2 linked regions of the Homo sapiens genome follow. The gene in region 1 interacts genetically with each later gene. Each region holds a gene or a part of one and is shown in the gene's direction. Other genes may lie near its edges.

The links. A genetic interaction does not mean that the proteins touch.
Region 2: changes in WAPL (region 1) and UBL5 are lethal when combined (synthetic lethality), as found in Homo sapiens cells (one study listed by BioGRID).

Annotation. Positions count from the first base shown.
Region 1 is NC_000010.11:86,515,177-86,518,824, reverse strand, and holds part of WAPL (wings apart-like protein homolog), read left to right. Parts: intron 1-733; 5' UTR 734-755; coding exon 756-1,254; intron 1,255-3,648. UniProt on the Homo sapiens protein: Regulator of sister chromatid cohesion in mitosis which negatively regulates cohesin association with chromatin. Involved in both sister chromatid cohesion during interphase and sister-chromatid resolution during early stages of mitosis.
Region 2 is NC_000019.10:9,826,296-9,830,043, forward strand, and holds the start of UBL5 (ubiquitin-like protein 5), read left to right. Parts: upstream 1-1,622; 5' UTR 1,623-1,689; exon of another isoform or gene 1,690-1,769; intron 1,770-2,031; 5' UTR 2,032-2,042; coding exon 2,043-2,098; intron 2,099-2,296; coding exon 2,297-2,380; intron 2,381-2,541; coding exon 2,542-2,579; intron 2,580-3,669; coding exon 3,670-3,713; 3' UTR 3,714-3,748. UniProt on the Homo sapiens protein: Ubiquitin-like protein that plays a role in cell proliferation and sister chromatid cohesion by associating with spliceosomal proteins. Participates thereby in pre-mRNA splicing by maintaining spliceosome integrity.

The DNA of each region.
Region 1 (3,648 bases):
ATGAGAAAAAGCACCATTTTGGGGACCTTTTTTCTCATGTGAATTAGTGCCATGAAATTTCAAAGAACTAAATTTAATCAAGTATTGGATATTTCTGAGGCCCTGAAAAAAACTAACATTCTGTGCTTAAGATTTTATATAAGTAATTACCCTATACAGGTTATCATTATATCACTGCAACCTCCATCTCCTGAGTTCAAGCGGTTCTTCTGCTCCAGCTTCTCAAGTAGCTGGGATTACAGGTGCGTGCCACCACTCCCAGCTAATTTTTGTATTTTTAGTAGAGATGGGGTTTCACCGTGTTGGGCAGGCTGGTCTCAAACTCCTGGCCTCAAGTGAGCTGCCTGCCTCGGCCTCCCAGCCTCTATACAGATAATTTTTTAAGGTAAAAATGATGTTTATAAGAATAGTAAATTAATTCATTTGGAACTTAATATGCTTCATTTTAAGTTAGCTTTATGGATATCGTATTATAAGTTGGTTAATCATTAAGTTTTTTTACTTTGTAAGTAGCGTAGGAATATGTACTCATTGTGGAGGAAAATTGACATGGAAGCATGTAGGGTAATAAATCAGCCTTTCTTTATACCCCTTCCTCATATTTGTTTATTTAAAAGTCTGTGTGGTGAGTGTCAAAAGTCATGAGGGAAGAATCCCTAGGTTTTTATTTTTATATGCACTGTTTAACACTTGTATTTGATGATTATATGTTTTCTTAAATTTTTTTTCACAGAGAATATGAAACTGGTGTCAAAATGACATCCAGATTTGGGAAAACATACAGTAGGAAAGGTGGAAATGGCAGTTCAAAATTCGATGAAGTCTTTTCCAACAAACGGACTACCCTTAGCACAAAATGGGGAGAGACCACATTTATGGCTAAATTAGGGCAGAAGAGGCCCAATTTCAAACCAGATATCCAAGAAATTCCGAAGAAACCTAAAGTGGAAGAAGAAAGTACTGGAGATCCTTTTGGATTTGATAGTGATGATGAGTCTCTACCAGTTTCTTCAAAGAATTTAGCCCAGGTTAAGTGTTCCTCTTATTCAGAATCTAGTGAAGCTGCTCAGTTGGAAGAGGTCACTTCAGTACTTGAAGCTAATAGCAAAATTAGTCATGTGGTCGTTGAAGACACTGTCGTTTCTGATAAATGCTTCCCTTTGGAGGACACTTTACTTGGGAAAGAAAAGAGCACAAACCGAATTGTAGAAGATGATGCAAGCATAAGTAGCTGTAATAAATTAATAACTTCAGGTAAGTTTTGATTTTCTTTATTCTCCGCCAAGAGAGCTTTGTGCAACCAATTTATTTAAATGATTTAAATTCTAAAATATATATTGTGTTTTCTTTCTGCACTTATGATACATGGGGACCATTGATAGTTTTGTAAAAGACATTTAAGAACTTTAAAGAAACCAGTTGGAGGTTGAAATAAACAACTTGGATGTTAACATTTATAGACTGTTGCGCAGGGTACGTTTTGGGAACAGTCATAAGTTTATAACCCCAATTCCAATAAGAAATATCTCTTTTTGTTGTGTTAGGATCACAAAGTATCTCATTTCTATTACTGTGGAGGATTTGGATGGTTATTGATAATGAAAATGAGATGAGTATTTAAAATGAGGATTAGTTACCAATGGTAGACTCTCTGCCAAAACTAGTTCAGAAAGATTAAGGGGGTATTGAGTGGAGACATTTAAAGAATTGAACTTGATTCCAAATTGAGATTAGTTTGGGGCCAGTATCAACTTGTATTGATAGATTTTTTTTTTTGAGAAGGAGTCTCGCTGTCGCCCATGCTGGCTCCGCCTCCCAGGTTCATGCCATTTTCCTGCCTCAGCCTCCCGAGTAGCTGGGACTACAGGCGCCCGCCACCACGCCTGGCTAATTTTTGTATTTTTAGTAGAGACAGGGTTTCACTGTGTTAGCCAGGATGGTCTCCATCTCCTGACCTCGTGATCTGCCCGCCTCACCTCCCAAAGTGCTGGGATTACAGGCATGAGCCACCGTGCCCGGCTGTGTTGATAGATTTTAAACCACAAAACTGGTTGTATTTTAAAAATGTTAATTTGTAAATATAGCATCTAGTATTCTCTCCTAAAACGATATATTTTGTTCTGTCTTCTGTAAGGGATTTGAGATTTATAATAAGTGAAAAAGGTGCAATTAATTAAAAGACTGAAGAGCTAATATTGAGGGTGGCAGGGAAGAGGTGGGGTGGAGAAGTGGGAGCACTCTATCAGCATTAGGATAAGGGTGGCAGTATACTGTAATTGAAAAGAAACCTTAGTTCTTGACGTCTTGGCAAAGTTTAGCAATAATGAGAGGTTATAAAAATCTCCTATTTTGAAAGGAAGTAAACACAGACAAAACTTGGCTGTACTGAATTCTTAAGGCAAATTTGTCCTTTGAAGGTTAAGGTATGTGAAACAGTACAATGTACTGGGCCTTGCATAGTTTTACTAAAAATGTTGAGCATTTTTTCACTCTTTTTCTCACTCTTGGATGAGACGATGAGCCAGCTGTTATTGTCATTCCCTTGATCCTCAGGGTTAATTCTAATTTGGCTGTCCTTCCTGCTTTGCCCACATTTCTCCTCAGGCGTTGTTGACAAGTTAAGTTTAGGTTAAATTTCCATTAAAAAACAGCGTAAAGGACCTGTGCAGTGGCTCATGCCTGTAATCCCAGCACTTTGGGAGGCCAAGGCAGTTGGATCACCTGAGGTCAGGAGTTCAAGACCAGCCTGGCCAACATGGTGAAACCCCATCTCTATTAAAAATACAAAAAATTAGCTGGGCATGGTGGCGGGTGCCTCTAAATCCCACCTACTACGGAGGTTGAGGCAGGAGAATCACTTGAACCCAGGAGACAGAGGTTGCAGTGAGCCGAGATCGCACCACTGCACTCCAGCCTGGGCAACAAAGCAAGATGCCATCTCAAAAAAAAAAAAAAAAAAAGGCATAGACAGCATAAAAACTGTTTCCAGGTCAGCTCCTAAAAATGTATAAATGTATATTAAAATCATCAAACTTTTTTTTTTGAGACACAGTCTCGCTGTGTTGCCCAGGCTGTAGTACAGTGGCGCAGTCTTGCCTCACTGCAACCTCCGCTTCCCGGATTCAAGTGATTCTCCCACCTCAGCCTCCCCAGTAGCTGGGATTATAGGCACCTGCCATCATGCCCAGGTAATTTTTGTATTTTTGTAGGGACAGGTTTTCACCGTGTTGGCCAGGCTAGTCTCAAACTCCTGACCTCAAGTGATCTGCCTATCTAGGCCTCCCAAAGTGCTGGGATTGCAAGCGTGAGCCATCGCTTCTGGCCCATCAAACTTTTTTTGAACTAAAATGAATTTTAACTCAGCTCTCATTTTATATAAGAAGCTCAAAGAGGTTAAATGACTGTCCAAGGTCAGCTAGTGGCAGAACTGGAATGAGATTCGTTTATTATCAACATATTGAGCACCTACTGTCCGTCAAACCACTGTACAAGGCTCTGCGAATGCTATTCTGCTTGTGTTTGTTGTTCCAACTGACATTTCTTTTTTTTCTTTTTTTTTTTTGAGATGAAGTCTCGCTCTTGTCCCCCCAGGCTGGAGTGCGATGGCGCTATCTTGGCTCACTGCAACCTCCGCCTCTCGGGTTCAAG
Region 2 (3,748 bases), on another chromosome or scaffold:
ACCCAGCAAGAAGCAAGATAAATGGCAGAAGCTGAGGAGACAAAACAAAAGGAAGATTAAAAACTGAGTAAAGGCCGGGCACAGTGGCTCACACCCAACACTTTGGGAGGCTGAGGCAGGCGGATCACGAGGTCAGGAGATCGAGACCATCCTGGCTAACACAGTGAAACCCCGTCTCTACTAAAAATACAAAAAAATTAGCCGAGGGTGGTGGGGGGCGCCTGTAGTCCCTGTTACTCGGGAGGCGGCTGAGGCAGGACAACGGCGTGAACCCGGGAGGCGGAGCTTGCCGTGAGCCCAGATCACGCCACTGCACTCCAGCCTGGGCGACAGAGCGAGACTCCATAAATAAATAAATAAATAAATAAATAAAATTAAAAAAAAAACAGTAAAAATCCCACGGCCGGGGAAATCAGGACCAAACCAGTAAGGAGCAGCTCTTTAGGCATAAGCACGCGCATTAAAGACAAAAAGTATCCTTAACATGATAAGGATAACCAGCTCATTAGCGCTCATGCATATGGACGGCATATCATGAATGGAGGCGGCTCTCAAGCACACAGGGGCCAAAGTAAGCAACACACCTATCATTCAAAAAGGTAGACACTGGCTAGATATTAGGCAGCCTTGGGAAGAGAAAAAAAGCCTGGCCAATAAGGTGAAACCCCATCTCTACTAAAAGTACAAAAATTAGCCGGGCGTGGTGGCGGGCGCCTGTAATCCCAGCTACTTACTCGGGAGGCTGAGGCAGGAGAATCGCTTGAACCCGGAAGGCGGAGGTTGCGGTGAGCCGGCACCGCGCCATTGCACTCCAGCCTGTGCAACAGAGCGAGACTACGTCTCAGAAAAAAAAAAAAAAAAAGACCCAAACTATACCAAGCTGGGGCTGATCTTATCTCGCAGAGGTCAGTCCGCTCTCCCCACTCCGAGAGTGGAATACTGTGCTTAATAAACTTGCAGCTTTGCCATCTCTGTGTGTCTGGTCCAAATCTTTCTTCAGGACACCAAGAGCCTGGAACTGTCCGGCACCATGCGGTAACAGCAGCTGTTGGGCAGCGTAGAGTCTACTCTAGGATCAAGCTTCGCCTACTGACTGGAGTCCGTATCCCGGGGGAACGCGATGGCCAGAGGGAAGAGGTGAGCCAAATGCTCACCAAGCCCAGCCCTGAATGAACCCAGGGGGTCAGAAGGGATGACTGCAGAACTCGTCCCCCACCCCCACCCTCCGCCCTTGCTCCTAGTTGCCGCTGCAAGAGGCTTCGGGCTCAGGATCAGGAGCTTACCCCTACTCCCGGGACCCTCTGGCGTCCCCACCATGTGACCGAGTCTCCCTGCAACAAACAATGACTTCAAACGAGCTGGGCGCCGGCGCCTGACCTCTGACTCTCGCTCCACGCCCCTTCCCTGGCCACAAACCCGCCGAGGCCCCCCTCTCTACCCGGCGCGCCTACCACAGGCGCGACACCTGTCAAGCCTTGGGACACCGAAACCGTACCTGGGAACAGCAAACACACCACAGACTGCAGACCCGGAAGAACTTGTCCCAGTGTTGACCACACCCCCTGGCTAGGGGCAGGGCTTCCGGCCTCGAACTTTAACTTCCGCTTCCGGTTCCTAGCGTTAACTGCGACCGGGGTTCAGCGCTCGGGTGAGGAGCTGGTGGCGTCGGCAGGTTCGAGGCGATTCGAGGTGAGGGGGTCAAGCGGAGAGGCTCGGAGTCGGAGAAAGCTGTCGCGACCCAGCCACCCAGGGTCTGGGGTCGGTGGGAGGTGAGGCCAGGGAGTTTTGTGGCAGGGCTTTCAGGCGGCGAGAAGGGGCGGAGGCGCGGCTCCCCGGGGTTCGCGGCCCTGGGACAGGGGACTTGGGGCCTGGGAGTATTCGAGTCCGGGGGGTTGGGGGCAGAACGGAAGGCTCAGTAACCTGGAATTTTAGGGCCTGGGACTGGGAGACTTGTAGGCTGGGGCTTCTGGGCCTGGGAGACGCCTGAAGCTCTGACTTTGCTGCCTCCCACCCACCCCCCGCTTTGTGTAGCTCCAGCTAGGATGATCGAGGTTGTTTGCAACGACCGTCTGGGGAAGAAGGTCCGCGTTAAATGCAAGTATCCACTGGCAGCCGAGAGGCAGTGGTACCCGCAGGGGTGCTTGGCGTGAGGCAGGCAACTCAATCTGTGTTGTCGGATGGTTTTAGTTAAACCCGGGAGAGGGGGCGGATGGGGTCCTGGCAGATGGTATTCTGCCCTAGAATGTCCTCTTCCTCGTTCTACCGCTTCCATTTGCCTTAACTGCTCTGCGCCCAGCACGGATGATACCATCGGGGACCTTAAGAAGCTGATTGCAGCCCAAACTGGTACCCGTTGGAACAAGATTGTCCTGAAGAAGTGGTGAGTGCAGCGGTAGAGCCACTGGGTGGACTGGACTAGGCCGGAAGGTTTTGGTTGGGGGAGCGCTGCAGGCAGCCCTTTGCTTAGGCTTGGCTACCTCATTTGGCCTACAGACTGAAGAGCCTCCTTAGCCTTATCTCTGAAATGTCTCTTTTTCTTAGGTACACGATTTTTAAGGACCACGTGTCTCTGGGGGACTGTATCCTTTGTGTGACTTTTTGAGGAAGCATCTACATACCCAGCCTCGGTTATCTGTTCAAAACTAAAGTCTGCATGAGCTTATGCATATTAAGTGTTTAACTTAATACGTGGCACATGGTGAGCACTTAGAAAATGGGAGCTAGGTAATTATTTGGTTGGGGAGGAGAGTGGTTGGTGAAATAGTTTGACTTCAAGTTCAAAATATTTATTACTGACCTCCACCTGAGTGCTGGACAGTAGGTCAGGGTGGGGTGAGACTCAGGCATATCTATTGTGCAAAAGGAGCAGAAACTTTTTACAATTTTTATTTTATTTATTTATTTTTTTGAGACAGTCTGGCTCTGTCGCCCAGGCTGGAGTGCAGTGGCACGATCTTGACCCACTGCAACCTCCACCTCCCGGGTTCAAGCAATTCTGCCTCAGCTTCCCAAGTAGCTGGGATTACAGGTGTGTGCCACCACTCCCTGCTAGTTTTTGTATTTTTAGTAGAGATGAGGTTCCACCATGTATGCCAGGCTAGTCTCAAACTCCTGGCCTCAAGTGATCCTCCCGCCTCGGCCTCCCAAAGTGCTGGGATTATAGCCGTGAGCCACTGTGCCTGGCCTAGAAGGAACAGAAACTTTTTTTTTTTTTTTTGAGATGGAGTTTTGCTCTTGTTGCCCAGGCTGGAGTGCAGTGGTACAATCTTGGCTCACTGCAGCCTCTACCTCCCAGGTTTAAGCGATTTTCCTGTCTCAGCCTTCCAAGTAGCTGGGATTACAGGTGCCCACCACCACACCCAGCTAACTTTTTGTATTTTTAGTAGAGACAGGGTTTCATCGTGTTGGCCAGGCTGGTCTCAAACTCCTGACGTCAAGTGAGCCACCTGCTTCGTCCTCTCAAAGTGCTGGGATTACAGGTGTGAGCCACTGCACCCAGCCAGAAATTCTTTTGTAAAGTTTTGGTTCTCTCCAAATAAAAATGGCCTGGTCCAAAATGGGCTTCCTTAGCCCTGGGCTGAGACCTCAGGCCACCTGACCCGGCTGTGAATGGATGAGAGGGGTGGGGACGGAAGTCAGAGTCAGGATTCCTTAACACCTTTCCTTCAGATGAAATCCACGATGGGATGAACCTGGAGCTTTATTATCAATAGATGAGAATCCTCATCTTCCTGCCCCGCTTTCCTCT